Regions from separate parts of the Homo sapiens genome. Here region 1 is reported to be linked to region 2. The links are microRNA targets in miRTarBase. Many come from high-throughput screens and were not tested one by one. Region 2 holds a microRNA gene; the other region holds the end of a gene's coding sequence.
The links. Region 2 holds the annotated microRNA hsa-miR-3910 (AAAGGCAUAAAACCAAGACA, at 6,585-6,604, opposite strand). A microRNA usually pairs through its seed, bases 2 to 8, with sites in the 3' UTR of a target mRNA and lowers its output. Matches are read on the target gene's strand: a 7mer-m8 pairs with bases 2 to 8, a 7mer-A1 pairs with bases 2 to 7 and ends in A, and an 8mer does both.

Region 1: miRTarBase lists GNL3L as a target of hsa-miR-3910. Seed matches in the 3' UTR shown: 7mer-A1 at 3,118-3,124, 7mer-m8 at 5,133-5,139 and 7mer-A1 at 5,806-5,812.

Annotation. Positions count from the first base shown.
Region 1 is chrX:54,559,040-54,574,301 of GRCh38, forward strand. It overlaps GNL3L (G protein nucleolar 3 like), which reads left to right. Exons shown (of 16, transcript NM_001184819.2): 16 at 1,481-8,250. The coding sequence ends at 1,563. Among named protein-coding and RNA genes, the nearest start is that of GNL3L, 36 kb to the left of the region's middle.
Region 2 is chr9:91,629,693-91,645,990 of GRCh38, forward strand. It overlaps MIR3910-2 (microRNA 3910-2), which reads right to left and starts at 6,653; the gene lies at 6,572-6,653. It overlaps MIR3910-1 (microRNA 3910-1), which reads left to right and starts at 6,559; the gene lies at 6,559-6,669.

The sequences.
Region 1 (15,262 bases), not on the chromosome of region 2:
AGGAGGCTCAACTACTAGCACAGTGGCTCTCAAACTTCAGCTCGCATCAGGATTCCCTGGAGGGTTTGTTAAAACACAGATTTCTGTGCCCCTCCCTCATAGTTTCTAATTGAGTAGGTCTTCTGTGGGGCCTGTTAGAATTTGTATTTCTAACAGGTTCCCAGCTGATGCTATTTCTCTGGGGATCACACTGGGAGAACCACTGGCCTGCCTAGTCTATGTATCAAATAACGACCATTTATTTATCAGGTACTCTCTATGTGTTAGGTAGCTTGCAGGCTATATATCAATAGGCAATATACTCAAAATCCTACACGTACAAGAGGATATACAGTAAAATCTCTCCCACCCGCTAGTCATCCAGACCGCCCCCTCGTCAGCCAGTTAGTTTATTGTGTCTTTTCTGAGACACAAGCAAATATCTATATATTCTTTGTTCTCTTTTTCCACACAAATGCCAATCTACTGGACACATGGTTTTGCCCTATCATTTTTCCACTCACTATGTCTTAGGGATATGTCTATGTTAATACACAAAAGAACTTCTTCCCCTCGTTTTAATGGTGGTACATTGTGTAGCTGGCCCATTTGGGTTTCCATGCTGTACTTTTCACTAACTCATTGCAAAAGTCTTCCCCTTATTTGATAAGTGAGAAAACTGAGGTCCAGAGACATTAAGTGACACGCTAAAGGTAAGACAACTTGTAGTTGATGGAGCCAAAATACAGACTTTGGGTTGATTGACCCCAACAGCCCTATTCTTTGAACTAGATTGTGTTCTGTAACCAAACATACACAATCAGACATTCACTCTTGGCCTGGCTCCACACTGAGTCCTGGGAATTCAGATGAATTGCCTTTGAACTCCTAGTCTTATTAGGGAGTGAGGAGGAGACAAGAAAACAGACCTTGGCAGCACGAGCACATAGTAATCACGTTGAAGACCCAGCAAGCACAGTGAGGGAACCTAACCCAGCCTGGGGATGGTGGTTGGATAGGGGTGATCAGAGAAGGCCTCCTGGAGGAGGTGAAGTCTGGGGGGCATCCTGAGGAACAACAGGGTGTGTCTGGGGGATGGGAGGTGTGCGTGGTGAACGTTCAGGCTTATGGCGAACATACAGCCGTGTTGCCCTTTGCTGTGAGAGCTTTGTTTTGAGGGTAATGGTAGAGCACTAAGTTTGACATAGTAAAAGAAAATTATTGCTTTGGTATTTGGACAAAAATACTTGGAGCCCAGTGAGTCTGAAACCCTGAGATAGAAGCTGTGTTGGGATGATCATTTCACAGATAGAAAAATGGATTGTCTACCTGTGAAGCTGAGCAGTGGCTTCCAGCACTCACCAGTTTTGTGGTAGCGTTTGGGGGTAAGTGAGCCAGTTCAGGAGCTTGGTGTAGACCAAGGTAGATGTAGGCCAGCGTCAGCAGGCCTCCTGGTGGCAAGCCAGCCACCAAAAGATTGCCTGTATTTCTCCATTTGCAGATAAAATCGCCAGCAAGCTGTCTGATTCCATGATGTCTGCTCTCGACCTCTCTGGCAATGCTGATGATGGTGTTGGTGACTAATCGACTGATCTCACTTCCCTTCCGCTCCAAGCACCAGTTCCGGTGGTACGGGGGAATACCAGTGAAATAGTTTGGTTCTCCCTGAAGCATCTGCATATTGAAAGAACGCTTTCCCCACTGTGTGTCTTCTCCCCCTCCTCCAGTAAAAACAGTCCCGGCTAGGTGCTGTGGCTCACGTCTGTAATCCCAGCACTTTGGGAGGCCGAGGTGGGCAGATCACCTGAGGTCAGGAGTTCGAGACCAGCCTGGCCAACATGGTGAAACCCCGTCTCTACTAAAAATACAAAAAAATTTAGCCGTGCTTAGTGGCACCTATAATCCCAGCTACTTGGGAGGCTGAGGCAGGAGAATCGCCTGAACCTGGGAGACTAAGGCAGGAGAATCGCCTGAACCTGGGAGGCAGAGGTTGCAGTGAGCCCAGACGGCACCATTGCACTCTAGCCTGGGCAACAACACGAAACTCCGTCCCAAAAAAAAAAAAAAAAAAAAAATCCCAAGGGGCTGCAGCTGCCAAACCCAATACCCTCTATTTAACCCCTACTCTGTTTTACAAGAGAAATAAAAGAAGTATCAGCAGAGCTCAGGTGCTAACACCTGTTGAGGGCTGACCTACAAAACTCTGCCTACAAAACTCTCTTAGACAGGTGAATATGCCACTAGAAGTTAGGTTGCTGGTAGACCTGGGGGTCCCTGCGGGAGGGTGATGGTTTCTTTACCACCCCACAGGAGATTTCAGTGGCAAGGCATGCCTGCAGTGGGCTTTGGGCCATGCATCTTCCAAGTCCATAGGTCTTCACCTGGGTGGCAGTGAGAAAAAGTAGAAAGTAATGAGCCTCCTGTGTCTCTGGAAGGTTCTAGGGATAGGGTAGAGGGAAGAAGAGAACAAACAAGCCTGGCTTGTGCTGAAGTGTGGTAGGCACTACCCTGTTTGCGTGAAGAGAAAACAAAGCACCTGTTAGTAGGGAGGCTTTAGGGGGAAGCCCCGTCTTGGGGGCATTTCTGGGCAGATTGTGAATTGGAGGAATCTCTTTAACTGAAGTACTCTGGCTGGACCCTGCCCTTGTGTGACCATGTCTCCTATTGCACCAGCATTTGAATTCCATGGCTCAAGAGGGTTCTGGTACCATTTATTCACAGACTGTATCCTCGAGAGAGCTGCTATATATGGGAGTGTACCAGCCAACTCCTTTTCCAGTGTCTGTAAGTCACCTCATTAAAGTATAATTAGCTGTCTCCTCTGGGAGATCCTACCCCATCAGACAAGGGCAGTGAGCCCAAGCAGTGCCAGAGGCCCTCAGAAAGGGATTAGGGTAGATGATTGCAACTGAAACACAATCTTCTTTCTTTGCCAGGGTATTTTGGGGGTTTTGCCCCAAAATATACCCTGGGCATAGCATTACTGCAGTCTTGGATGTCTACCCCAAACTTCCACACCATCCTTCGACCCACAGCTGCACCTTTATTTATTTATTTTGCTCTGTTGCCCAGGCTGGAGTGCAATGGCGTGATCTCGGCTCACTGCAACCTCTGCCTCCCGGGTTCAAGTGATCCTCCTGCCTTAGCCTCCCAAGTAGCTGGGATTACAGGCACCTGCCACCACGCCTGGCTAGTTTTTGTATTTTTAGTAGAGACGATGTTTCACCATGTTGACCAGGCTGGTCTCGAACTCTTGACCTCAAGTGATCCACTCGCTTCGGCCTCCCAAAGTGCTGGGATTATAGGCGTGAGCCACTGTGCCCAGCCTCACAGCTGCATCTTAACCTTACCTTTGCCTCTGCCTCTCAAGCTGGTACCTCCTAATTTACATCCTAAGAGTGGAACCATGTGACAAGGACTGGAGTGCCATTGGCTGTGGACTGTTCAGGCAGGGAAGTACAAGACCACTCTTGTATTCAGGGGCAACCAAAGGAGAGAATTACGTACTTGTTGAGTACAAACTGCACCAAGCCCTGGAGACCCATTACCACCGTTAACCCTCAATACAGCTCTGCTAGTAAGGGATTCGTCTCCCCAAATGAAAAAAAAAAGTAATCTCAGAATGTTGGCCGAGCATGGTGGCTCACACCTGTAATCCCAGTTATGCAGGAGGCTGAGGCAGGAGAATCACTTGATCTCAGGAGGCGGAGGTTGCAGTGAGTCGACATCACACCACTGCACTCCAGCCTGGGGGACAGAGTGAGACTTCGTCTCGGAAAAAAAAAAAAAAAGTTGACAGGATGGCCAGACCCAAGTGGGCGTATTAAGTGGTGGTGCTAGGATTGGAACCCAAGCGTGATTAAAACCCTATGCAGGCCCTTTCCTCTATATTGTACTGCCTCCTTAACAAAGGAAGATTGATTAAGCCCCTACTTTGTGCCAGTCTCTGTTATCAAGTCCGTTAAATGCATTTAACGTTAAATTTTTTCTTTTTTGGTTTAAAAAACTCTAGTTTCTTAAACTACTAGTTTTTAGTGTCTTGCTAAAACTATGTGCTCTTGAATAGGCTACAACTTATTTCACACTATCTCATTGAACTCTCCTGGTATGTGATAGTGTTATAATGAAAAATTGCATACCAGGACAGCTAAGTCTATTTTGCAACCATACAGCGTTTCATAATTTAGCATTTAAAATACAGACAGTCCCCGACTTTTGGTGGTTTGATGTGGGATTTTTGGTGGAAAAGCAGTATACATTCAGAATGCACCTCTACTTATGATGGGGCTACTTCCTGGTAAACCCATTGTAATGTGCAAATTACGGGTTTATCAGGAGGTGACCCCATCGGTAATGGAGAAGTGCTGGGAGGTAAATATTAGAAATGGAAGTATCTAAATGAGTAAGAAACAGCATGGGAGCATAATTTGGCCAAAATCAAACAGAACTAAAGTAGTCATGTCGGTAAGAATTTGGGACTGCAGGCCAGTTACGATAGCTCTCACCTGTAATCCCAGCATTTTGGGAGGCCGAGGCAGGCGGATCACTTGAGGTCAGGAGTTCAAGACCAGCCTAAACAATATGGCGAAACCTCATCTCTACCAAAAAAATACAAAGATTAGCTGGGCATGGTGTCTCATGCCTGTAGTCCCAGCTACCTATGGGGCTGAGGCAGGAGGATCTCTTGAGCCCAGGAGGTCGATGCTGCATTGAGCCGAGATTGTGCCACTGCTCTCCAGCGTGGGCAACAGAGTGAGACTGTCTCAGGGGGAAAAAAAAAGAGGAAAACAAAAAAGACGTTGGGAGTGCAGTTTCTCTACCTACAGCATATCTCAAAGGTTTTTTTTAAAAAAGTATTTTCTTAACTTTTTACCTTCATTTTTCAAAACAATTAGGGTACAATTTACATATAGTAAAGTTCACTCTTTATAGTTTTAGTTATGTGAGTTTGTACAAACATATACAGGAGTGAACCACTACCACAATCGAAATATAGTTGCATCACCCCCCTAAAACTCTCCAGGCCCTTTTGTAGTCAACTCCTACCCCCGACCCTCAGATTCTGCTAACCACTGATTTGTTTTCTGCCCCTATAGTTTTGCTTTAGTATGACTGTCATATCAATAGAATCATACAATGAGTAGGCTTATTTTATGCCTTCAGGTTTTAAAAATTATAAACATTTACATTACAGTAAAATTCACTCTGGTATACAGTTCTATAAAGCTCTGATAAATGTGTAGAGTTGTGTAACCACCAATGCAACCAAGGTACAGAACAGTCCTCTTAGCCTCTCCCTACCAAATTTATTCCTGCTACTTTGTAGTCAAAACCAGTCCCCTACACCCAAACCCTGGCAGTCACTGGTTTTTTTCTTCGTTCTCTTTTTTTTTTTTTTTTTTTTGAGACAGAGTCTAGCTCTGTTGTCCAGGCTGGAGTGGTGCAGTGGCGTGATCTCGGTTCACTGCAACCTCCGCCTCCAGGGTTCAAGCGGTTCTCCTGCCTCAGCCTCCCGAGTAGCTGGGATTATGGGCGCCCGCCACCACGCCCAGCTAATTTTTGTATTTTTAGTAGAGATGGGGTTTCACTGTTTTGGCCAGGCTGGTCTCGAACTCCTGACCTCATGATCCTCCTGCCTCAGCCTCCCAAAGTGCTGGGATTACAAGAGTGAGCCACTGCGCCTGGCCTTTTTCTTTGTTCTTATATTTTTGTCTTTTTTTTTTTTTTTTTTTTGAAACAGAGTCTCACTCTTTCACTGAGGCTGGAGTGCAGTGGCGTGATCTTGGCTCACTGCAACCTCCACCTCCTGGGTTCAAGCGATTCTCCTGCCTTAGCCTCCCGAGTAACAGGGACTACAGGTGCCCACCACCATGCTGGGCTAATTTTTGTATTTTTAGTAGAGGCGGGGGTTTCTCCACACTGGCCAGGCTGGTCTTGAACTTCTGACCTCAAAAGATCCACCCACCTCGGCCTCCCAAAGTGCTGGGATTATAGGCATGAACCACCGTGTCCGGCCATATATTTTCGTCTTTTGAAGACTGTTATATACATGAAATTATATGGTATGTAGCATTTTGAGAGCGACTTCTTTTGCTATGAGTAATACATTTGAGATTCATCCATATTTCTCAGTATATTAATAGTTCTTATTTCTGAGTCACTCCATTGTGTGGATTTACTACTGTTTGTTCCCCAGTTGAAGGATGTTTAGGATCTTTGCAGTTTTGGACAATTACAAGTAAAGCTGCTATAAACATTTGTATGCAACATTTTGTGTTTTCATTTATCTATAGTAAATACCTAGAGTTGGATTGCTGGGATATATGGTAAGCATATGTTTGACATTTTAAGAAACTTCTAAACTGTTTTTCAAAGTGGCTCTACCATTTCACATTCCCATCAGTATGAAAGTTTCATTTCCACATCCTCTCTAGTACTTGGGGGTGTCAGTTTAGTTTTTTAATTTTTAAATTTTTTAATTTTTTTAATACATTTAAATAGAGATGGGGTCTCACTGTGTTGACCAGGATGGTCTTGAACTGCTGGCCTCAAGTAATCCTCCCATCTCGGTCTCCCAAAGTGCTAGGATTACAGGTGTGAGCCACCATGCCCAGCCAGGTTTTTTGACATTAAGTATGTGGTGGTATCTCATCGTTTTTATTTGCATCCTCTAATGATTTGAGCATATTTTATATGCTTATTTGCTATCTACATATCTTCTTTGGCAAGGTGTTCACATCTCTTGCATATTTTGGATTGTTTTATTATTTTTGAATTTTGAGGATTATATGCTGGATACAGGGGTGTTTTTTTTTTTTTTTTTTTTTGAAACAGAGTCCTCACCCAGGTTGGAGTGTAGTGGTGCAATCTCGGCTCACTGCAACCTCTGCCTCCTGGGTTCAAGTAATTCTCATGCCTCAGCCTCCTGAGTAGCTGGAATTACAGGCGCAGGCCACCATGCTTGGCTAACTTTTATATTTTTACCAGAGACAAGGTTTCACCATGTTGGCAAGGCTGGTCTTGAACTCTGGACCTCAAGTGATACACCCGTCTTAGCCTCCCAAAGTTCTGGGATTACAGGCATGAGCCATTGTGCCTGGCCAGTATCTTGTCTTCTCATTCTGTAAACGGTGTCTTTTTTTCATTATGGGAAAGCTTTATTGACACATTTGTTTTTATTTTTAAAAATTATGGTAAAATACACAGAACATAAACGTTACCATCTGATATGGTTTGGCTGTGTCCACACCTAAATCTCGAATTGTAGTTCCCATAATCCCCACACATATGTACCACATTTTCTTTATCCAGTCTTTCGTTGATAGACATTTAGGTCGATTCCATGTCTTTGGTATTGTGAATAGTGCTGCAGTGAACATATGTGTGCATGTGTCTTTATGGCAGAATGATTTATATTATGCATAACCAAAACTGTACTTATTAAACAATAACCTCCCAACCCCTTCTGCCCACAACCTCTGGCGACTGCCATGCTACTTTCTGTCTCTGAATTTGAATACCCTGATAGTCATATAATATTTATCTTTTTGTGACTGGCTTATTTCACTTTGCATAATGTATTCAAGCTTAATCTGTGTTGTAGCCTGCGTCAGAATTTCTTTTCTTTTTAATGCTGAGTATTATTCTATTGTGTGTATATACCACATTTTATTTATCCATTCATCCACTGATGGACATGTGCATTGTTCCCACCTTTTGGCTATTGTGAAAAATGCTGTTATGAATATGGGTATGGAGATCTCTCCCCTTATTTTGAGACAGGATCTCACTGTCACCCAGGCTGGGGTGCAGTGGTGTGCTCATAGGTCACTGTAGCTTCGACCTCCTGGGCTCAAGCGAACCTCCCACCTCCGCCTCTTGAGTAGCTGGGACCACAGGCATGTGCCACCATGGCTGTTAAATTTATTAATTTGTTTTTCTATGGATCATGCTTTTTGTGTTACATCAGAGGAGTCTTTGCTTAACATGAGATGACAAAGGTTTTCTCCCATGTTTCCTCCTAAAAGTTTTATAGTTTTAGGTTTTACATTTAGGTCTATGATCCATTTTGAGTCAATTTTTGTATATGGTACAAGGTATGAATCTATGCTTTTTAAAAAAATATGGTTACCCAATTTTTCTAGCAGTATGTGCTAAAACTTTGCTAAAGTCACTTAGTTCTAGTAGCTTTTTTTGCAGATTTAACCAGACTTTCTACATAGACAATCATATCTTCTGTGAATAAACATGGTTTTATTTCTTCATGTCTAATATATATGTCTGCATTTTTTTTTTTGTCTTATTGTAGTCGCTGGGACTTCCAGTACTACACTGAGTAAGAGTGGTGGCCAGGTGCGGTGGCTCACGCCTGTAATCCCAGCGCTTTGGGAGGCTGAGGTGGGCTGATCACCTGAGGTCGGGAGTTTGAGACCAGTCTGACCAACATGGAGAAACCCCGTCTCTACTAAAAATACAAAATTAGCTGGGTGTGGCAGCGCATGCCTGTAGTCCCAGCTACTTGGGAGGCTGAGGCAGGAGAATCTCTTGAACCCAGGAGGCAGAGGTTGCAGTGAGCCGAGATCACACCATTGCACTCTAGCCTGGGCAACAAGAGCGAAACTCCATCTCAAAAAAAAAAAAAAAGAATGGTGAGCACAGGCATCCCTGTCTTGTTTCTGACTTTGGGGGAGAGTATTCTTTCTGCCTTTAACCATTAAGTATGTTAGATTTTTGTATTGCCCTTTACTAGTATGAGGTGCTAAGGGTTTGTTTTAGGAATGGATGTTAGATTTTCTTAAATGTTTTTATGCATCTATTGAAATGATTACATGGTTTTTCTTTTGTGGTTTGTTTTTAATGTAGTTTTAATAAATTATATTGATTGATTTTCTTATGATAAACCAATCCTGCATTCCTGTGATAAACCCCACTTTGTCATGATGTATTATTCTTTTTTTTTTTTTTTTGTGAGACGGAGTCTCACTCTGTCACCCAGGCTGGAGTGCAGTGGCATGATCTTGCCTCACTGCAACCTCTGCCTCCCGGGTTCAAGTGATTCTCCTGCCTCAGCCTCCTGAGTAGCTGGGACTACAGGTGCGTGCCACCACGCCCGGCTAGTTTTTGTATTTTTAGTAGAGATGGGGTTTCACCATATTGGCCAGGCTGGTCTCGAACTCCTGACCTTGTGATCCGCCCGCCTCAGGCTCCCAAAATGCTGGGATTACAGGCATGAGCCATTGCACCCAGCCTATTCTTTTAATAAATTGTTGGGAAGTTATATTAGTTTCTATTGCTGCTGTAAAAAATTAGCACAGACTTTGTGGCTTAAAACAACACAAATCTATCATCTTACACTTCTAGAGGTGAGAGGTCCCAAATGAGTTTCACTGGGCCAAAATTGGTGTTGTCAGGGTTACACTCTCTCCAGAGACTCTAGGGGAGAATCCATTTCCTTGCCTTTTTCAGCTTCTAGAGGCTGCTTAGATTCCTAGAATAATGGCTTCTTTCCTCATCTTCAAAATAACTATGTAGTATCTTTTTTTTTTTTTTTTGAGACGGAGTCTCACACACTGTCGCCCAGGCTGTTGTGCAGTGGCACGATCTCCGCTCACTGCAACCTCTGCCTCCTGGGTTCAAGTGATTCTCCTGCCTCAGCCTCCCAAGTAGCTGGGATTAGAGGCATGCGCCACCATGCCCGGCTAATGTTTTGTATTTTTAGTAGAGATGGGGTTTCACCGTGTTGGCCAGGCTGGTCTTGAACTCCTGACCTCATGATCCATCTGCCTGGGCCTCCCAAGGTGCTGGGATTATAGGCGTGAGCCACGACGCCTGGCCAACAATGTAGTATTTTTTCTCTTTTCTGAACCTCTCTTCCAATCCTTATATCTTCTCTGACTCTGATCTTCCTGCCTCTCACTTAAAAGGACTCTTGTGATTACTTTGCATGCATTGGGATCATCTAGGATAATCTCCACATCTCAATATGTTTAAGTTAATCACATCTGGAAAGTTCCTTTAACCATGTAAAGTAACATATTCAAAAGTTTTGGAGATTAGGATCTGTAGATCTTTGAGGATGGGAGGCATTATTCAGCCTACTGCAGATGTAATTTGATAAATTTTTGCTTGGAATTTTTGCATCTACATAAGGATATTGGTCTGAAGTTTTCTTTTGTTTAATGTCTTTATCTTTGGTATCGGGGTAATGCTGACCTCATAGAATGGGTTGGGAAGTGTTTCCTGTTTTTGGAAGAGTCTGTGTACAATTGGTATCATTTCTTAAATTTTAGAGTTTACCAGTAAGTTTTATTTGTGGGAAGGTTTAAGACTACAATTTCAATTTTTAAAATATATATAGGGCTATTCAGGTTATATTTCTTCTTGTGTGAGGATTGGTAATTAGTATTTTAAAGAAAGTTCTTCATTTCATGTAGTTTATCAAATTAATTTTTGTAAAGTTGTTAATATCCTCTTATCATTTTGTATAAATTGTTAAAACGATTCTAAAATTGATAAGAAAATGCAAAGTAGTTAGAATGTAGTCAAAGCAACTCTGAAAAAGGAACAAAGTTGGAAGACTAACACAATGTGATACCACATTTGTCATTCCTGATATTAATAGTTTGTGCCTTTTTCCCCTTGATCATCTGGCTAAAGATTTATCAATTGTATTGATCATCTCAAAGAATCACATTTTGGTTTAATTGATTTTCTCTGTTTTCTGTTTTCTAATTCATTGGTTTCTGCTTTATCTTTATTGTTTCGTTTTGCTTATTATCCAAAAAGTTTATGATTTTTGTATTACTTAGAACTGTGTTATTTAACTTCCACATATTTGGACATTTTCCAGAGATCTTTCTGCTATTGACTTCTAATTTAATTACATTATGGTAAAGGAATGTACTTTATATGACTTGAATATGTTAAAACATATCAAAACTTGTTTCATGGCCCAGAATATGGTCTGTATTGGTAATATGTTTCATGTGCACTTGAGAAGAATAAATTTTGCTGTTGTTGAGTAGTCTTCTATAAATGTCAACCAAGTTAAGTTGGTTGATAGTGTTTTTCATGTCTACTATATCCAGGCTGACTTTATGCCTACTTGTTCTATCAGTTATTAAGAGAGGACTATCGAAGTCCCCAATGATAATTGTGGATTTGTCTGTTATTTTTTGTAGTTGTATCAGTTTTTATTTAATTGATTTTGAACCTTTCATGCTAGGTGCATAGACCTTTAGGATTGTCATGTCCTCTTAGTTAACTGACCCCACTATCATTCTGAAATGAACTTCCTTGTATTCTTTGTTCTGAAATGCATTTTGTCTAGTATAAATATAGCTGCTGCAGCTTTTTTGGGCTAGTTTAACTATGGTATATCTTTTTCATCCTTTTACTTTTTATGTATTTGTGTGTTTATGTTTAAAGTGCATTTATCATAGGCAGCATATAGTTGGTTCTTGCTTTTTTATCCAATTTGACAGTCTCTGCCTTTTAATTGATGTTTGGATCCATTTACATTTAATGTTATTATCAGTATGGCTAGGTTTGAGTCTATCATCTTGCTATTTGTTTTGTATTTGTTCCATGTATGCTTTGTTCCCTTTTCTCCCTTTTTCTGCCTTCTTTTGGATTACTGTTTTTTTTAATGATTCCATTGTTTTTTCTTCCTTGATTTATTAGCTGTACCTCATTGTTTTATTATCTTAGTAGTTGCTTTAGAGTTTATAGTATAAATGTTTAACTTCCTCCTCCTGGCTTTCATGCTAGTGTCATAAATTTTACTTGTAGATTTTATAAACCTTAAAATACATTGTTGTTATTTTTGTTTATACTTTAAGTCCTCTTTTAAAGAGATTTAAATAATAGAAAATAATTATATACTCACATAGTTACCATTTCTGGTATTCTTCATTGCTCTGTGTGGCTCCAGACTTCTATAAGGTAGCATTTTCTTTCTGCCTGAAGAACTTTCTTTAACATTTTTTGCATTGTGAGTCTATTGGGCAATGAATTAATTCAGCTTTTGTATGTCTGAATGTATTTTTTTTGCCGTCATCTTTGAAAGGTATTTTTGCTACATATAGAATTTAAGTTGATAGGTTTTGTCTTTCAGTACCTCAAAAGCATTGTTTCATGCTCTTCTCAATTATGTTGTTTCTAAGATGTCATCCTAATTTTTTTTTTTTTTTTTGAGACAGAGTCTTGCTCTGTTGCCCAGGCTGGACTGCAGTGGCACGATCTCAGCTCACTGCAAGCTCCACCTCCCGGGTTCATGCCATTCTCCTGCCTCAGCCTCCCGAGTAGTTGGGACTACAGGCACCGGCCACCACGCCCGACTAATGTTTTTATATTTTTTAGTAGAGATGGGGTTTTACCGTGTTAGCCAGGATGGTCTCGATCTCCTGACCTCGTGATCCATCCACCCGCCTCAGCCTCCCAAAGTGCTGGGATTACAGGTGTGAGCCACTGCGCCCGGCCTTTTTTTTTTTTTTTTTTTTGAGACAGGGTCTTGCTATGTTACTCAGGCTGGTCTCAAATTCCTGAGCTCAAGCAATCCTCCCACCTCCGCCTTGCGAGCAGCTGAGATTATAGGCGTGCACTGCTGCACCTGGCTTGAGACATCTGATGTCATCTTAATTTGTTTCTTCTATAGATAATGTGTTTTTTAATCTTTATCACTTTTGAGCAATGTAATTATAATATGCCTTGGTGGGTTTTTTTCTTTTATGTTTTTCTGCTTGGAGTTTATTGAACTTCTTGGATATTTAGGTTTATAGATTTCATCAAATTTGGAAAGTTTTTGGCCATTAATTTATCAAATATTTTTTCCTCTTCACCTGCTTTCCTCCTTCACGGACTCCAGTTACCTATTTTAAGCTGCCTGAAGTTGTCCCACAGATCATTGATGTTCTTTGGATTTTTTGGATTTTTTTTTTCTCTCTGTGTTTTATTTTGGGTAGTTTCTATTTTATTTTATTTTATTTTTATTTATTTATTTTTTTTTATTGATCATTCTTGGGTGTTTCTCACAGAAGGGGATTTGGCAGGGTCATAGGACAATAGTGGAGGGAAGGTCAGCAGATAAACAAGTGAACAAAGGTCTCTGGTTTTCCTAGGCAGAGGACCCTGCGGCCTTCTGCAGTGTTTGTGTCCCTGGGTACTTGAGATTAGGGAGTGGTGATGACTCTTAACGAGCATGCTGCCTTCAAGCATCTGTTTAACAAAGCACATCTTGCACCGCCCTTAATCCATTTAACTCTGAGTGGACACAGCACATGTTTCAGAGAGCACAGGGTTGGGGGTAAGGTCACAGATCAACAGGATCCCAAGGCAGAAGAATTTTTCTTAGTACAGAACAAAATGAAAAGTCTCCCATGTCTACTTCTTTCTACACAGACACAGCAACCATCCGATTTCTCAATCTTTTCCCCACCTTTCCCCCCTTTCTATTCCACAAAGCCGCCATTGTCATCCTGGCCCGTTCTCAATGAGCTGTTGGGCACACCTCCCAGACGGGGTGGTGGCCGGGCAGAGGGGCTCCTCACTTCCCAGTAGGGGCGGCTGGGCAGAGGCGCCCCTCACCTCCCGGATGGGGCGGCTGGCCGGGCGGGGGGCTGACCCCCCCACCTCCCTCCCGGATGGGCGGCTGGCCTGGCGGGGGGCTGACCCCCCCCACCTCCCTCCCGGACAGGGTAGCTGCCGGGCGGAGATGCTCCTCACTTCCCAGACGGGGTGGCTGCCGGGCGGAGAGGCTCCTCACTTCTCAGACGGGGCAGCTGCCGGGCGGAGGGTCTCCTCACTTCTCAGGCGGGGCGGCCGGGCAGAGACGCTCCTCACCTCCCAGACGGGGTCGCAGCCGGGCAGAGGCGCTCCTCACATCCCAGACAGGGCGGCGGGGCAGAGGCGCTCCCCACATCCCAGACGATGGGCGGCCAGGCAGAGACGCTCCTCACTTCCTAGATGTGATGGCGGCCGGGAAGAGGCGCTCCTCACTTTACAGATGGGATGGCGGCCGGGCAGAGACGCTCCTCACTTTCCAGACTGGGCAGCCAGGCAGAGGGGCTCCTCACATCCCAGACGATGGGTGGCCAGGCAGAGACGCTCCTCACTTCCCAGACGGGGTGGCGGCCGGGCAGAGGCTGCAATCTCGGCACTTTGGGAGGCCAAGGCAGGCGGCTGGGAGGTGGAGGTTGTAGCGAGCCGAGATCACGCCACTGCACTCCAGCCTGGGCGCCATTGAGCACTGAGTGAACCAGACTCCGTCTGCAATCCCGGCACCTCGGGAGGCCGAGGCTGGCGGATCACTCGCGGTTAGGAGCTGGAGACCAGCCCGGCCAACACAGCGAAACCCCATCTCCACCAAAAAAATACGAAAACCAGTCAGGCTGAGGCAGGAGAATCAGGCAGGGAGGTTGCAGTGAGCCGAGATGGCAGCAGTATAGTCCAGCTTCGGCTGGGCATGAGAGGGAGACCATGGGGAGAGGGAGACCATGGGGAGAGGGAGAGGGAGAGGGAGAGCTCTTTTTTTCTTTTCTTTGAGACAGAGTCTCGGTAGTTTCTATTTTATGCCTTCAAGTTCACAAATATTTTCTTCTGCATTGTCTAGTGTGCTGTTTGTCCCTCCAGTGTATTTCTTCAACTCAGACATTGTAGTTTTCATCTCTAGAAATTAAATTTGGGTGTTTGAAAATATTTTTTATTCCTCTATTTACCTGTTTGAACATACGGAATATAGATAACAAATGTTTAATGTACTTCTCTGATAATTCTAACATCTTTGGAAATTCTCAGTCAGCTTTGTTGATTATTCTCATTATGGGTCATATTTTTCTGCTTTTTTTTTTTTTTTGCATAACCAGTAATCTTTGATTTGATGCCAGGCCCTGTGAATTTTGCCGTTTTCATTGCTTGCATATTTTTGTATTCTTATGAACTTTTGAGCTTTGTTCTTTGATGCAGTTAAGTTATTCTGAAACAGTTTGATCGTTTTGGGTCATGCTTTTATGATTTGTTAAGCAGGTTCAGGGCATAAGTTTTTTCAGTTTGGCTGGATCATATCATCTGTGAATAAAATGGTTTTACATCTTCCTTTACAATCGATGTGCTTTTCATTTCTTTTTCTCAACTCACTATACTGACTAGGACAATGTTGTGTAGAAGTGGTGAAAGCAGACACCCTTGACTTATTTCCAACCTTAGGAGGAAAATACCGAGTCTCTTACTATTAAATATAATGTCTATTGTAGGTTTTGTAGATGCCCTTTATCAGGCTGAGGAAGTT
Region 2 (16,298 bases):
CTGATTACTGTCATGGGTAATTTCTGCTGCCTGCTTTTGTTTCAATATATGACTCACACAGTCTTGGATTTGAACACCTTGTAATTTTTTATTGGATATGGGATATTTTGTATAATATATTGTAGCAACTTTGAATACTAGTGCCCTCCCCCAACCCCCAGGCTTATTCTAATTTCCTGGTTTATTTGTTTAGTGATTGACTGTATTATTTTAATGAAGTCTATGCCACCACACACACCCACTTCTGATGTTGCTCCTCTGGGAGGTTCAGCTTTAGCTTTACAAACCTGGAATGACAGTGGTTTTGGTAGGGCTGTCTTCCTCTGACCACACCCAGTTGTTAAACCCCACTAATTTCCAGCTGATTAATCCATTATTAACAATTCCCTTAGGCATAAATTGTTCTACAAACTAACCCAATCAAATTCTGGCTCCTTTGAAGAAACAGTTTCTGAAGTCACTGTTTGATATGTGTTCTGACACTATGAGGGCCCTTCCCAGATGTCTTCTTCCCCAGTTCTCTCCTGCAAACTAGAAGGCCTACAGTTTAGCCTAGATCTTGACCTGCCTCCCAATCATCTTTCACCACAATTTTCACTGTTCTTGAGAGAATCCTTGAGCTTGAACTCTTTTATCCTCTTTTGCAAATGAAGTAAGTTCCTTTAGGAAGAGATTAGGAGCTGTCTGTTTTATGGCCTGCTTCTGCCTTCCAGCCAGAGCTTTGACTCTGGGGGCTAGGACAATGGCAAGCTTCTCTCCCAGGGACACTTTCATTTCAGGTTCTGAATGCCCAGTGGAGGCAGGGCAGAAGCCTGGGGTCCTCTTGGTCCTTACATCTCCTGATGTGGAACAACTTCCAGTCAGCTGGAGCAAGGGTGATTATGGCACCACCCTTCTCAGCATGCCATGCCAAGGTAGAGTCTCCATTCCAAAAGTAGGGGCTGGGTGAAAGAATGGAGCCCCCATTACCTCATGGCACTTGCTCAGAACTTGGAAAGGGGTAACAGGAGAAGATTGCAAGGGGACAAAAGAAAACCTTTGGGTGATTATGTCAATTGTGGTGATGGTTTAATAGAGGTATACTAAAACTTAACAAAAATCCTATACATCAATAAAACTGCCAAAATTGCAGAACATAACTTAGGGGGAGATATTTCTAATATAATAAAGAGTTAGTATAAGAAAAGTTCATACCAAAGGAAGGGAGAAACAAGATACTAAAATAGGAATAAATTCAGTCATGAACTCAGGTATCTTCCATCTGTATCTCTAGATAGAAATCTTGGTTGCAGAGGAGGTAGAATAATGGCAGAATGCCTGGCAGAGAGCTTAGCATTCACCATGTACTTGTTAATGTTTATTGAGTAAATGTTTGTTGAGTTTGTTGCCCTTGGGAAGTTACTTTCACACCCATCACTCCCCTAGGGTCAGTTTCCCTCTAACACCACCATGATAAACAGCCTTTGATCACAACAGGAAGTCATATTGCATTAGACTCAAGAGTCATTCAGCACATCTTCCTTACATTGCCTTCGTCATAATAACGAAGAATGCCGACCCATTACATAGACACAATATAGCAATAATATTTAGCGCCTTATCTTTTTTTAAATCTGACCATCTCAAAATGGAGATGATAGGTTCCATATACCTTCCATGTATTTCCAGTTTTAAGAAGCTTTAAGAAGTCGAGAATAATTTTTAAAGAAATTACATTAGTTAATAATTTTCCATGACTTGGCTCCTACTGGAGCCTTTCAATTCTACATGCGTCTTTTTTCTCAGCCAGGCTGGTCTCTGTGTTGCTCTAACCATGCCTCATTATAGTAATAGCCGTCATTTCACATAATCTAATGAACACCATGCACATCATACACACTTCACATATGTCAGCAAAAATCCTCACATCCACCCTCAAAGGCATTAATTATTCCCCATTTTACAAATGTGAAAATTGGTGATCAGAGAAATTAACTAACTTGCCCAAACTCTCTCAGCAAGTAAAAAGTTTCTGTCTGACCCTCCAAACGTATACCATTGGGCTCTCTCTCTGTCTGATGTTCAGATTTTTGTCTCTGCCTTTTTCCTCCTGCCATTTCCTTAGTTTGGATCTTCCTTTCTCTCTTTCTTTCAAGGTCCTGCCTTCAGCACAAACCCTTCTCCAACAGTCCAGGCCCCAGGCTCCTCCAAGTACAGCTTGCCAATTCCTTGTCTGGCAAGGGAAAAGGAGGGAGAGAGAGAGAGAAATGGGGGTCAGAAGTGAAGCCATTAGATGCCAGGCATAGTGGCTCACACCTATAATCCCAGCACTTTGGGAGGCTGAGGTGGGCAGAAAATCACCTGAGATAAGGAGTTCGAGACCAACCTGGGCAACATGGCAAAACCCCGTCTCTACTAAAAATACAAAAATTAGCCAGTCATGGTGGTACATGCCGGTAATCCCAGCTACTAGGGTGGCTGAGGCAGGAAAATTGCTTGAACCCAGGAAGTGGAGGTTGCAATGATCTGAGATCATGCCACTGCACCCCAGCCTGAGTGACAGAGTGAGACTCCAAAAAAAAAAAAAAAAAAAGAAGAAGTAAGGCCATTAAGAAAGCCAGGAGGTGAGGAGTAGGGGATGAAGAGCCAATCTCAAGAAAAGGAGATGAAACTTTGTCTCCTCTGCCTTTCAAAATGCTGTAGCCTGATCTTGCTTTTGAGAGCAGGTAAGGAAGATGGGCAAGCAGAGGAAGGAAACGTGTTGGGTGGAAGATTCTTCTTCACCCAGAAATGGCTTCAGCACTCACCAGGACCAGAACCCAGGCTTTGTAGGGCAGGAATGAAGGGCGCTAGCCAATTTCCTTAGCCTCTGCTTCACACAGCTGTGGGATTACTGATTTCTTTGTCCATTTTGTTAATTAAACTAAAAATAATTTGCCATCATCCATCATGCTTTCAAGAGATAGTCTTTAGCTATGAGCATCTGATTTGGAGTAGCAGAGGAAATGCACACTCTGTTAATCAAATTTCAAAAACCAGAATCCAGTGGGACCTTTGGGCCAGCAAAGTGGGGCTAAAGCATATATGCCCTGTTGCTGCACTTAGGTAGTGAACCACTTGAGGAAAAGAACTGCTTTGAAAATCTTTATTTCCTGAATCTGCAGAGGAGGCCAGGAGAACTTTCTAGGGATGAGGGTGATGTTCTATATCTTGATAGAGGTGGTGTTTACACAGATATATAGCTGTCAAGTCATCAAATTGTACACTTAAGATCTGTACTTTTTACTGCAGGTAAATTCTACCTTATTATGGCTAATGGAAAGAAAGAAGGAAAGTAGAAGGGAAGGAAGAGGGAGGGAGGGAAGGAAGGAAGGAAGGAAGAAAGGAAGGAAGGAAGAGGAGGGAGGGAAAAGAAAGGAACAGAAAGGAAGAGGAGGGGAAGGGAAGGGAGAGGGGAAGGGAGGGGAGGGGAAGAAAGGGGAGGGGAGAGAAAAAGAATCCTCCCACTTCTGTAAACGTAGGTTTGCTGTATTAGAAATCCTGGTTCCCATTGGGCAGTGCTTCTGTCCAGGAGCCAAGTAAGGATTCTGCTGCACCTGCAGCTGCAAATGCCACATGGGCACTTTGGGCTGCTCTTACCTGTGAGCCCACACGTGGTGAAAAGACTAACTGCATGATGGACTAATTGACCCTGACTGTCATGAGAAGATGGTGCTGCCACAAGTGTGAATGGGAGGAGAAGATCTGGAATGCAGGGAGTCAGTGGACCTCTCTTGAGGCTTCTGTGTGGCAAACAAGAAATTGCAGCCATTCTGAGCTTCAATGAGAGTAGGTAGAAAGGGGTTGCTGTGCTGGATAGTGAAAAGCCAAGATGACCATCTGAAGGTCAGTCAAAGGCTTCTTGTCAAGAAGCTTCCAGGTTTCCTGATGAGATGTAGCTTGAGAGTCACTTCCTTTCCAATGGACAAAGTGATGGAACAAGTGACCTATTGTAGAATTAGTCTGAGGGTTTCACCTACATTTGCCATTATCCTGGCACACCCTCTCCATCTCAGGGCTGCGCCACCTTTTTGTGTCTGTCTGATACAGGCTAATTGCTCTCTGTGTACATAGGCAGAACAGGTTACTGTAACAAGTAGAGACTGCTATGGAGATTTCATTAAGGTTGACACATTCATTTCAACTGGCCAGGAGCGTCAGACCATATCCCAGAACACTCAGGCATTCTCAAGTACTAACAAATAATCCCTGTAAATCACTCACTTCCACAAAAGTTTAAAATAAAAATAGAGGTAGAGGAATCTTTCTCCAACTTTTTCCTGATGCTCTTTTCTATTCTAGTGTGATCCTGCTCTATGTTTTCCAATCTCATCATTCTTGTTCATTGCTGGTCCACTCAGTCCTTTTAAGTCAACAGTTATAAGTGTGCTTACATTCTATTAGAATGAGATCTGATGACAGGGCTTATCTAAGGCTGAAGTCCCTCAAGGACTTCCCTTCCCCAATCTCTCTCACACATCAATAAGAGCCGCAGGAGTGGCTTTATTATGTGAATTTATTGTGCCTTCTCTTGAAGAATATCATCCAATGCTGTTTTAAAATTGTATCTTTCAAATGCCATTTGAAATGGTTATAAGGCATAGAACAATATAAGCTATGGCATTTGCTAATAAGCATTAGCATGGAGCCATATGCTCCCAAAATATATTACACTTTCCACAAAGAAGTCAGAGACAGAGTTTATCAAGGATAGATACCATACTTCTTTATTCCCTAATAGCTATAGCTATATCCTTAGGGTTCTATGCTATTTTTATTTTGAAACTCTTAAATATGCAGTCTATTTCATCCCATAAACATATTAAAGACTAAATTTACCACAGGTTGTCAGACTAGAAAAAGATGAATGAGACTCTCTAAAGGCAGGCAAGCTCACTAAAAAAATATTACCCAAATGAAAACTCTGGGCAACAGAATAGTAAAGCAACACTCTTTAATGTTACTTGATCATTTGGTCACTAATTCCAGAGGATATTTGGTAAAATGTTCAACAGATAATCTGTTAAATGAGATGAAAGCCTGGGTTTGAGAAATAAAAGTGCTCTCTAAAGTTGTTTGAGTGGAAACTGTAGGGAAATAATGAGAGAGAGAGAGAGAAGAAGAAGAAGAAAAGAAGAAGAAGAAGGAGAAGGAGAAGGAGAAGAAGAAGAAGAAGAAGAAGAAGAAGAAGAAGAAGAAGAAGAAGAAGAAGAAGAAGAAGAAGAAGAAGGAGAAAAAGAAGAAAAAGAGGAGAAGAAGAAGAAGTAGCAGAGGAGGGGAGGAGGAGAAGGAAGAGGCAGAGGAGGAAGAGGCGGAGGAGGAGGAAGAGGAGGGGGAGGAAGAAGAGGAGGGGGAGGAAGAGGAGGAGGAGGAGGAGAAAGAGATTACATGCCTGTAATCCTAGCACTTTGGGAGGCCGAGGCGGGTGGACTGCCTGAGCTCAGGAGTTTGAGACCAGCCTAGGCAACACGGTGAAACCCCGTCTCTACTAAAATACAAAAAAATTAGCCGGGCATGGCGGTGTGCACCTGTAATCCCAGTTACTTGGGAGGCTGAGGCAGGAGAATTGCTTGAACCCAGGAAGCGGAGGTTGCAGTAAGCCAAGATTGCGCCATTGCACTTCAGCCTGGGCAACAGAGCAAGACTCCGTCTCAAAAAAAAAAAAAAATTGAATATTTTACCTCGTCTTAAGAGTTTCATGTCAATCTGGCCTTTATCCCTTTAAAAAGGGTCTTTCTTTTTTTTTTTTTAACTTCTCTCTGGGAGTTTCCAGAAACCTCTTTTTTCCTTTGGTGCTCATAAATTTAATGAGCATGTATATCAGTTGGGGCCATTTCTCATTCACTGCACTCAGGAATCAGCATGCCCTTTCAATAGGGGATTCATATCATTCAGCCCTGGGAATTTCCTTTAATTTTTTAAGAAATATAATTTTGGGCCAGGAGTAGCGGCTTATGCCTGTAATCCCAACACTTTGGGAGGTCGAGATAGGTGGATCACTTGAGGGCAGGAGTTCGAGACCAGCCTGGCCAACATGGCAAAACCTGTCTCTACTAAAAATACAAAAATTAGCTGGGCATGGTGGCAGGTGCCTGTGATCCCAGCTACTCAGGAGGCTGAGACAGGAGAATCCCTTGAACCCAGGAGGCGGAGGTTGCAGTGAGCCAATATCACGCCATTGCACTCCAGCCTGGGTGACAGGAGCAAAACTCCATCTCAACAAAAAATAAATAAATAAATATAATTTTGTTCTCTTAATTTTCTCTGTTCACTCTTTCTGAAAAGCCTGATGAATTGGTTTTCTATACTTCCTTTGCTTCTCTAATATTTTCCTTCTTTTTGCTCTGACTCTAAGGAGCTCATTGGATTTTCCAGGCCTTCTATTGAAATTTTTTTTAAATCCTAATTTTTCTTTATTAAAGATCTCAGTTTTTTTGTCACATTTTTGTAACATCTTGCTCTTGTTATCTAGATATGTTTCCAAAATCTCTTTTAATTCATCAATTAAGGGGATTTTTAATGTCTTCGGATTCTCTTCTTCTTTTGCTGTCAGTTTTTCTGTTGCTTGTCTTGGTTTTATGCCTTTTATATCAAGGCACATAAAAGGCATAAAACCAAGACAAGCAACAAAAAAAGGATTGATCACAGAAGTTTCTCCTTATGTGCCAATTGGTCTTCAGTTGCTCAGTTCTAGTTAAATCAAAAGACCAGGGTGGCTGGTGTGGTTTCCTCTGCTGTTGAGAACATTAGTCTGTTTTCCATCAGTCTCACCACTGAATGGGAATTCTTGCTGGATGCTCTGGGCAGGGCAGGGCATGACAGGGCAAATAGACTGGTGGGCTTTCTTTGGGTAAGCAGAAAAGGAACTGGCATTGACACTGGGCTCTCCAAGAGTCAAAATGAGAAAGACATGGTACACAGACTCCCAGACTAGAATACATATTATTTTCCAATTATGTTTTAGCATAATTTCTTTAAAACAGAGCCCTCTGTTCTTTGGTGGGAGTAGCATCCTATCCAATTTTATTATTGCCATTGAAAAGAAATATAATTTTAAATAAGTAGTTATCATTGCTATTCTAATTTGTAGGTAACACAGTATAATAGAATTAGCTATCTAATTTACAAGTTACTGAATAATATGATTTTTAAAAGGAAACATATCAAAAGATGTGAAAGAAAAGAAAGAAAATTTTAAAATAAAGCAACATAAACAGAAAACATAAAATAAGACTGAATAAATAGATAACACATATGAGTTATCATAATAATTATAAATGGGTTAAATTCATCTAACATGATTCAAAACAATTTTAGAATTATCCATCTTGGGTTCAAAACCAAAGTTTGTCGACAAGTATTTTACTTAAATTTACTATACTATCTGTTAGGCTACTGTCTCCCAGCTTCAAGCCCATCCTTCTACCTTCAGTATATGAGGCTGGGGCAGGAGCTCTGCAAACACATTTATGCTCTATCAATAGAAGGCACTAAAGGGATGACTGAAGCCTGGAGTAGAAAGAAAAAAATGTTTTACTTTTTCATTCTGAGAGTGTAATTTGTTCCACCATAAGTAGTTTGTTCCTGAATGTTCTCCCAACATTCCCCAAACCAGTCTCACTCCCCTGTAAAACACAGACACAGACACACACACACACACACACACACACACACACACACACTTTGAAATGCCAGCATTTGTTCTTTTGTTTTCTGCATCAGGTCCCTAAAATGGCATTTAAAAGATAAGCTGGGCAGACACCTCTCCTCAGAGGTCTAGGCCCCAGACTCAAGGGGTCCCCTCCTCTGAGATTTTAAGTTTTAAGAAGTGCAGCTTCTTTCCTTTGTTTTCCAGGTTCTATGGGTGGTAGCTGCTTCCAGCACTTGTTACTTCCATGATACTTAGAGTTCTCTTTGTTTCCTTTCAATTACCTGATAAACTTTATTCCTACTTAACAAGACAGTGCTGTCTTATCTTCTAAATGTCATTGTAGGGACCTGATGCAGAAAACCAAAGAACAAAGACTCAAGTAACTTCCAGCTTCCTATGTGTAGAAGTGAAAGAGGTGAATAAGTAGACTAATCCAGAGATATGAATTTGCAGGCTGGGAGCAGGGATTGATCCCAGAAGTTTAACATGATAGAGAGTATTGATATGATACATTATGTGGCTTGAACAGGATAGAAAAGAAGTAAATCAAAGCCAAGAATCAGCTGACAGACTGGAGAAAACTTCAGGAGTTTAGGGTGATGAGGTTTGCTGAATATTAAATTCTGGCATGGTGAAGTAAGTAAGAGGAAGAACAGATAGAAAGGTGTTTGCAGCCTATGGACAGTTCAGTGTTGAAGCGGTCCAGGAAATGACAGGATCAAAGCTGTGGAATTAGAGTTGAGATGGAGGCGAAGGCCAGTAAAGACAAGGAGATTGTTCTACTTAAAAATTTAGCGGCTTAAAATGACAGTGATATTTTGCAATTTTGTGAGTGAAGAATTCAAGGATTAAACTGGGCAATTCCTCTGGTCTATGTGTCAGTCACTTGTTTATATTCAATTAGTGGCTAGTCTGGCTTAGGGAGCTCAAGACTGCTTCTCTCACACACCTGGTGCCTTGTTTGAGACAACTAGGCTCAGCTGAGCTCCTTTTCCATGCCATATATTATCAGAATCTCCATGTATACACTCTTGTAAACTAGTCAGACATGGTAGCTCAGCACTTGCAGAGACCAAAACAAAAGCTTTAAAGACTAAACCTATAATTGCATAACATCATTTCCTCCATACTTGATTAGTCAAAACAGTTATGGGACAGTCCAGATTCAAGGAGAGGAGAAAAGGATCCCACTCTTATATGGAAAGGATGTCAAAGAATTTGTAGTCAACTTTAACCTGCCACAGAATTCCTACTAAGATAGGAGTTAGCTCATCTAGATAAAAGATAACATGAGTTGGACTTATGAGGGAGACAAAGGAAATGTTCCCAATAAATGTAGGAGAGTAGCCCAAAGGTGAGTGACAGCTACGAGATGGGGCAGAGAACAGTGTACTGGGATGATATTGCCTCTGTAGTTAGCTAACACAGTTACTTTCACCTGTGAGAGAGGGTGGGTGTTATGGGCTGAATTTTGTCCTCCCAAATTCCTATGTTGAAATCATAACCCCTGATACTTTTGAATGGGACTATATTTGAAAATAGGGTCTTTAAAGAGGTAATTAAATTAAAATAATGTCACTGGGATGGCCCTAATCTTTACAAGAAGAGGACCTTAGTACCCATACACACACAGGAAGAAGACCATGTGTCTTAGTTCAATTGGTGTTGCTATAACAGAATACCACCAACTGGGTAATTTATAAAGAACGGAAATTTATTTTGTCACAGTTCTGGAGGCTGGGAAGTCCAAGGTCACAGTGCTAGCAGATTTGGTGTCTGGAGAGGGTCCAGTCTCTGCTTTCAAGGTGGCACCTTGAACACTACATCCTCCAGAAGGGAGGAACATTTGTCCTCATGTGGCTGAAGGCAGAAGAGCAAGCAAGCTTAGCCCTGCTTGAAGCCTCTTTTATGAGGGCCATTAAGCTGAATCACAAGGGAGGAGACTTCATGGACTAATCACTTCTTAAAGGCCCCATCTCTCAATACTTTCACTTTGGAATTCACACCTGAATTTTGAAGGGTTACATTTAAATCATAGTATTATGAGAAGACATAGAGAAAAGATGCCATCTACATGACAAGGAGAAAGGCCTCAGAAAAAAAAACCAATCCTGCCAACATCTTGATCTCAGACTTCTGGCCTCCAGAACAGTGACAAAATCAATTTCTGCCTAGAAAACTAATGTGATAGGTGATTTTTGTGGGGTGGGGAGAGTGTCCACAGCACAAGAGGTTGCAGTGGCAATGGGAGATTGGTTACGTATGGTGGAATTGACCAAGCAAATGTATTCAAGACACTGAAAGCCAAGTTTCCCGCTGTCAGAGAAGGAAATTAATACACAGAAAAAGAAAATTAGAATGAACCTTCCAGTTTTGCATTGGAAATTGAGATATTAGGACAAATCTATGATTTTCAATATATAAGTAGGTTGATAGATAGATACATACATACACAGAGTAGGATACAGGCATGTAAATGCTTATATACAAATATTCCTTAGCTCTCTCTTCACTGAAAGAGTCTGGAAGGGGCAATACCTTAAAAGCGATGAGCACATCTAGAAGCCAGATCTTGGTATTTAAATACCATTCTCTACTAAAAGAAGACTTGGCTTCTTTGAGAGATGGCCGATTCTAGTACTAGGGCAGGGAAAGAATAAGAAGAGCCTGGAATGTCTTGTGCCATCAGGAAAGAATAAAGCAATCACAGCACACTGAAAGCTTAACAAAAGGCCACAGAAGCCAGCTTGAAGGGGCTCCCATTGATCAAATCTAAAACAATTTGGTTGTCAAAATACATGCTGAAAATAACAGATTATACCCCATTGAGTAAAAGAGGAAAGCACAAGTCCATAGTGATAGAAATAAATAAGTAAATAAATTAAAAATTGAGGACATTTCCATAGTTCCAAAGTAGATTCCCCCAAAATACTTATTAATTACAAAATAAAAAAGAGTACCTTGATAGTGAAGGAGGCTGGCAGACACCAGCTTAATCAAGAGATCAAAGTGAACATTGTAAGGAATGGGGCAAATCAAGATCAGGTGCTACCTGCTAGTGTATTATGAGGACATGACATAATTTCTGTGGGATTCTTGCCCAAAATGCAGAACCTGAATCAGATTACAAAAAAAAAAAAAAAAAATTCAGGCAAATCCAAACTGAAGGACATTCTGTAAAATAACTTGTGTGTAATCTTCAGAAGTGTCAAGGTCATGAAAATCAAAGAAATACAAGGAAAAGGGAGTTGTTCCAGATTAACCAAGACTACGAGTCACGTGACACATGCCCTGGCCTGGATCCTTTTGCTATAAGAGACATTATTTGCACAACTGATGAAATGTGAATGGGTCTGTGGATTACAAGCTTGTAGGAAATCAATATTAATTTCCTGCTTCTGATGGATGTATTGTGATTATGCAGGAGAATGTCCTTGTTTGTAGGAAATACACACTGAAGGATTCAGGTGTCCTGGGGGCATCAAATGAGCAAAACACGCTCAGATGGTTTAGGAAAATAAAATAGTGTATTTGCATTGCATTTACAACTTCTTTAATGTCTGAGATTTTTTTACTTAATGAAATTAATAACATTGATATTCTTTACCCAGAATAATAAATGGTATCTATTTTTAGTATCAGTCAAAGTCAAGTCAGGGGACAGAAACTAACATCTACTTAAATAGAGATAATCGAATACAAACAACTGGCAAATAAGTAAAAAGTTATTAACTAGGTAACTGAAATGGCAATAAAAGAACTCTGAGGTACCACAAATGTTGCATTTGCAAAATGCAGCTACCATTCCTAGGGCTAGGGAAATAAAAGAAAAAGTTTGGAATTATTAAAACTTAGAAACCTTGAGGTTGATCCCCATGGGCCTAGGCCCCAGACCTCTGAGGAATCTGAGCTCAAAAGGGAGAGTCAGGGACATTGCCATATAGATGATAAGCATGTCAATTCTCTATATCTGTGTAAAAAAGTCCAACAAAACTTAGGCTCTTAGAAATTTATTTTTATTATACTCATTGATTCTGTGGGCACTTTAGAAAGAACACGATAAGGTGGCTCTGTCAATCATTTTGGGGGCCTCAATTGGAAGGACCAGAAAGCTGGGGGTGACTTCGTGGGTAGGGTCAGGAATCTCAAGCACATGTGGTTTCTCCATGTGGCTTGGGCTTCCTCACAACATGGCAGCCTTGGATTTCTTACATGTCAGTCAGAGCTTCAAGAGAACCTGGAGGTGGAGGCTGTATCACCTTTCATGACCTAACCTCAGAACTCACATGGATTCTCTTGCCTGCCTGGATTTGAGCACAGGAAATACAGGTACTGCTCAGCATTTAGGGAACGGCAAGGTCACCTTGCAGAAGAGCAGGTGTGATGAGGATGTAGCTGTCTTTGGAAAATATAGCCTGCACATAGGTAAACTTACAGGTGTCATCATGGAAAAAGCAGTCTGCAAATCTCAGACTGCTATGACAGGAGGTTAAAACCGAAGCACTAAGACATAATAGAAACAAAATTACAAATTCAGATCTTCAAAAGAGATGGCTCAGAGCCAGTTTGACAAGTCTTGAGCCCCTCTACCTCAGCAAGGGAGGAGCGCTGGAGAAAAGAAGATTTTAGGGGAAGGGTTTTGAAGAGAGCTTGGGGAAGAAGTGGGCCCTGTCTCTTTCACTCCTGTCTCCTGAGGGGCTTCAGCCAGGGGAAGCATGAGCATGAGAGTCTTGGGGAACACCCTGGAGGGGAGTCTGATTCCTACCCAGGGAAGCCTGGATGACAGGAGAGAGCAGTGTTGAAGCAGTAGCAGAGTTGGGGGAAAGGCAATCTCCTGCCACGCTTGGGAGGAAATGCCCCACATTCAACCAGGAGAGGGGATGCTGGGTCCTGGGGGCATGATTCTCAAGACCTGGAGCAGAATTCAAAGTTAAAGTAGTGGTTGGGCACTTTGTCAGTTCTGCCTAGAAGAACCTACCGGAATAGGTCATGGGCCCTAAAAATTCCAGGCTACGAGAGGGGAACAGCAGGAGAACGAGGCCTGGGTGCGTGGTGGCCTCCAAGGGACTCCAAGCAGGGGCCTCTGAGCCCCCCTCCCAGAAGTTTCCATGGAGTTCACTCACAGAAGAAAGGACCTAAGAGTTAAGTAACTCACCCAGGGTCGCAAGTAGTTAGTGGCAGCACTTTAAGCACCTGCCAGGCCTGGAGGATGCAAAGACAGATTAAGATCCCTCTATCTCAAGTATAACTCCCTGGTAGCCCCCTGCTCTGCCTGCCTGCAGGAGGCAGCCTTGGCCACTGGTGAAGCATGGGTTGTACAATAAAGAGAGGCCGATGGTGCCTTGTCCACTCCCATTGCTTCCCCTCAGTGTGCCCGGCTGCAGTGGGCAGAGGGTCTGATCCCATATCCAGGTCCTGGACTTTATTCTTGTCTCAGAAAGGACATCCCAATTGCCAAGCCAAGGCAAGAGTGGGTGGAAAGGTCACAGGGCCTGCCCATGTTCTCCGGGGCAGGGCAAGTTTGCCCCTATGAAATAAATCACAAAGCAGCAGTGGAACATAAAAGTCAAACTGGGACATTCTTGTGGAACAGGCTGGGCGCAGCCTCAGGGAATTCCATGTATGGGTCACAGGACAGGCCGCCCAGAGGTGCTAGAGGGCTGAAACAGCTGGCTAGATGAAACGAAAGAAAGAAAGAAGTAAGCAGAGAAGAAGTGACATCCACTAAGAGGAAGGTGCTCCCAGGGCCAGCCCCTCTCAGACCCGAGCAAGTATCACAACCCTGTCTGGGAGGAGGAGGCAGAAGAAGGAGCCCAGAGAGGCTTGCAGGCCTTTGCAATTGTGCATCTTAGACCAGAGTTCCTCAGGCTCCCCATCCAGGTTCAGAGCCAACACGGTGGCAGCTGCTCAGGGCCGCCTGTTCAAACACAGATCACTGAGTCCCAAAATCATTAAGTCTGGGCTTGACCTGAAAATTTGCATGTCATCCCCAGATGAAGCTGAAGCAGTTGGACCAGGGACCAGAGTTTGAGAAGGAACACTGATTATGGTGTGGTGTAGCAGCAAGGGGCTCACCTCGTGCCTAGGAATCACACTAGTTTATTTTAAACACTGGCATGGACAGTGTTAAGTAGTGTACAGCTTTAGTAGAAATTGAAGATTAATGAAAATACTGCAGAAAACACACAAATAGATCATGTGCTATATATGCAATCATCGGCCTGTAGGCCCTAAGCAAACACTGCTCCTCCTGGGGGCAGCGCCTGGGAGGGAAGTAACATGGCCCCAAGAAGTTCGACAGGCCTTTGATGCTATGCAGGACAGCACAAAGCTCGCCAGTTTCCTCCATCTAGGTAGAGAGCCAAGACGGGAGTGGCTGAAGTAATGACTGCCTGCTGAAATGAGAATTCTTTCATTTGGTAAATCAATAATTACAAGCACACTGGGGAAATTAAGCAAAGAAAATTACATCACTCTAGTGTTGCACTAGAATCATACATGCCTACAAATAACAAATCGGGAATTCCCCCAGCAGTTATAAATAAACCACACACATTGCACACTTGCAAAGGGATGTGAGTAAGCAGAGTGTTTGCTCCTCATCAATGATAACACACATGTGAGCTGGTTGTAAATATGAAGGTTGTAGCAGCTACAGGAATCATTGCTTTAAATTTTCTGTAGTGTGCGTATGTGTTTGTGTGCATGTGTGTGAACGTATGTGTGAACGTGTGTGTGTGTTTTCCTGTATGTGTGTGCATCAGGCATTTCCCAGAGAGAAAGCACTATCTTTCTCTCCAGGGAAAAAAAAATCATTGAATGGAAAGAAATGGCAACAAACCACTTGGAAATCTAAACATCCACCTTAAGGATCAGTTCAGAGAGCTGAACAGAAACGCTCCAGCCCACAGACCCCATCAGTCCACGTGTCCACTTCCTTCCCTCGTGGTTACTCTGGTCCTTCATTACTTTCTGCTGTGTAAACTCTAGCCCTTCAGACTCACTCACCTATAGCCACGAGCCTTAGCAATAAATTGGGTGGGGTGGGGGGGTCTCTTTCATTTTAGGGACATTTCAGGTACAAGGGAATATAATTATTACATACTCATGCCAAAATTTGTATATTTTTAAGCCATCTGCATCTTAATTTCTAAAGTTAATATCCTAATTTTATAGGAAAGAAAAAGAGGCAAAGTTGGAGAGGTGAGTGTTGTCCAGAAGTTGACCCAGTGGAGGCTGGGGGACTGTGGTGGACTCCTGGGCTCCAGACGCCAGATGCACACTGGTCCTGCTGCCTGTGCTGCCCATCTCAGGCAGACTCACCTCTTCTTCCTCCATGCTGGTGCACCGGATCTGCCCCTCAACACCACCTTCAAGGCCATCACTGATGGCATGAAGGTTTGCTTAGCATTTCTCCAGCCACATCTCCATAAGCTTCTAAAGTGTTTGTGCACGTGTACACTCATGTGAAAGCACATTGAGTCCTGAGAGTGGGACTTACATACATGGCACTTTCCAGAGTGGAGGGACACAGAGGGCTAAAGGCCTGGGGAGGAGAGGTAGGCCTCAGCATGCTCAGCCCAGGGCCATTTGCCTGGAGCGTTCACCCTATCCAATGCTATCTCCCCTCTTCACCTGCCATCACCTGCCATCTGATGGACTCTAACCGCCATGCCGGCAGAGCCAGGTCAAGGGATGGGCCAGCCAGGGATGTGGACAGGACCCTGATCTAACCCAGACATAAACACCACTCTGGGAAGCGAGGCACCTCCAGAAGAGTAAGGGGTGGAAGAGATGGCATTGGCCAGAACTTTCCCCAGATATGTGGCTTAAGAGGAAAACACTGGGAAGCCATCCGGGCAGCAAAGAAGACCCCAAAGAACAGAGCTTGAGGAACGAAGAGAAATGAACTCCTTTGAAAGACATTTCTTCTGAGCTGGGGCCAGAAATGAACTGCTCAGGGAAATAGAGATGGGTGAGGCAGAGGTGCCATCCGGGACCTCTTTTCTCATGCTCCAAGGAGTACTCTGCCTCTCCGGATCCACATCAAGTGTTACTCAAAGACTCCCAGCTGGAAAGGTACCATGTTTGTTCTGGCCTTGCCTTCCACAAGTTTTAGGCTGGTACCAAATGAAAGCCTACGGCTTCCTCCCTAATGGCGGAAGATGGCGCACCTGCTGGCCTTGTCTGCATCAGCAGAGGGCACCGACTCTCCTTCTAAGAGGCACTCACGGAGTCTTGACTCTGCCAATCCAGGCTCACTTTCCATTTTACGCCTGCAGGTTTACCTGATTATTAACTGCACCCTCACTCTGCCTCCCCCACCACCATGCGAGTATTAGCATCACCTCCCAAAGACCCCTCTCTGGATATTCTCAACAAAATTCATCAACCAGTTATATTAAATGTCCTCCCTTGGCAAGTTTTCTTTTCCTCCTTTTGTGTCCCCCTGCCTCAAGCATTTCTCGGGTGAACTGAAGTCACAGTATTCCTCTTAGACCCTGTCACCCTCTCCCTTTCCCCACACAGTTTCACCAGCATAAAAACGCCATGTCCTCTGGGAACACAGGCTGCTTGGAGGGTGATGGAGTCACATTTACCAAATGCTAGTCCCCAGGAGAAACACATA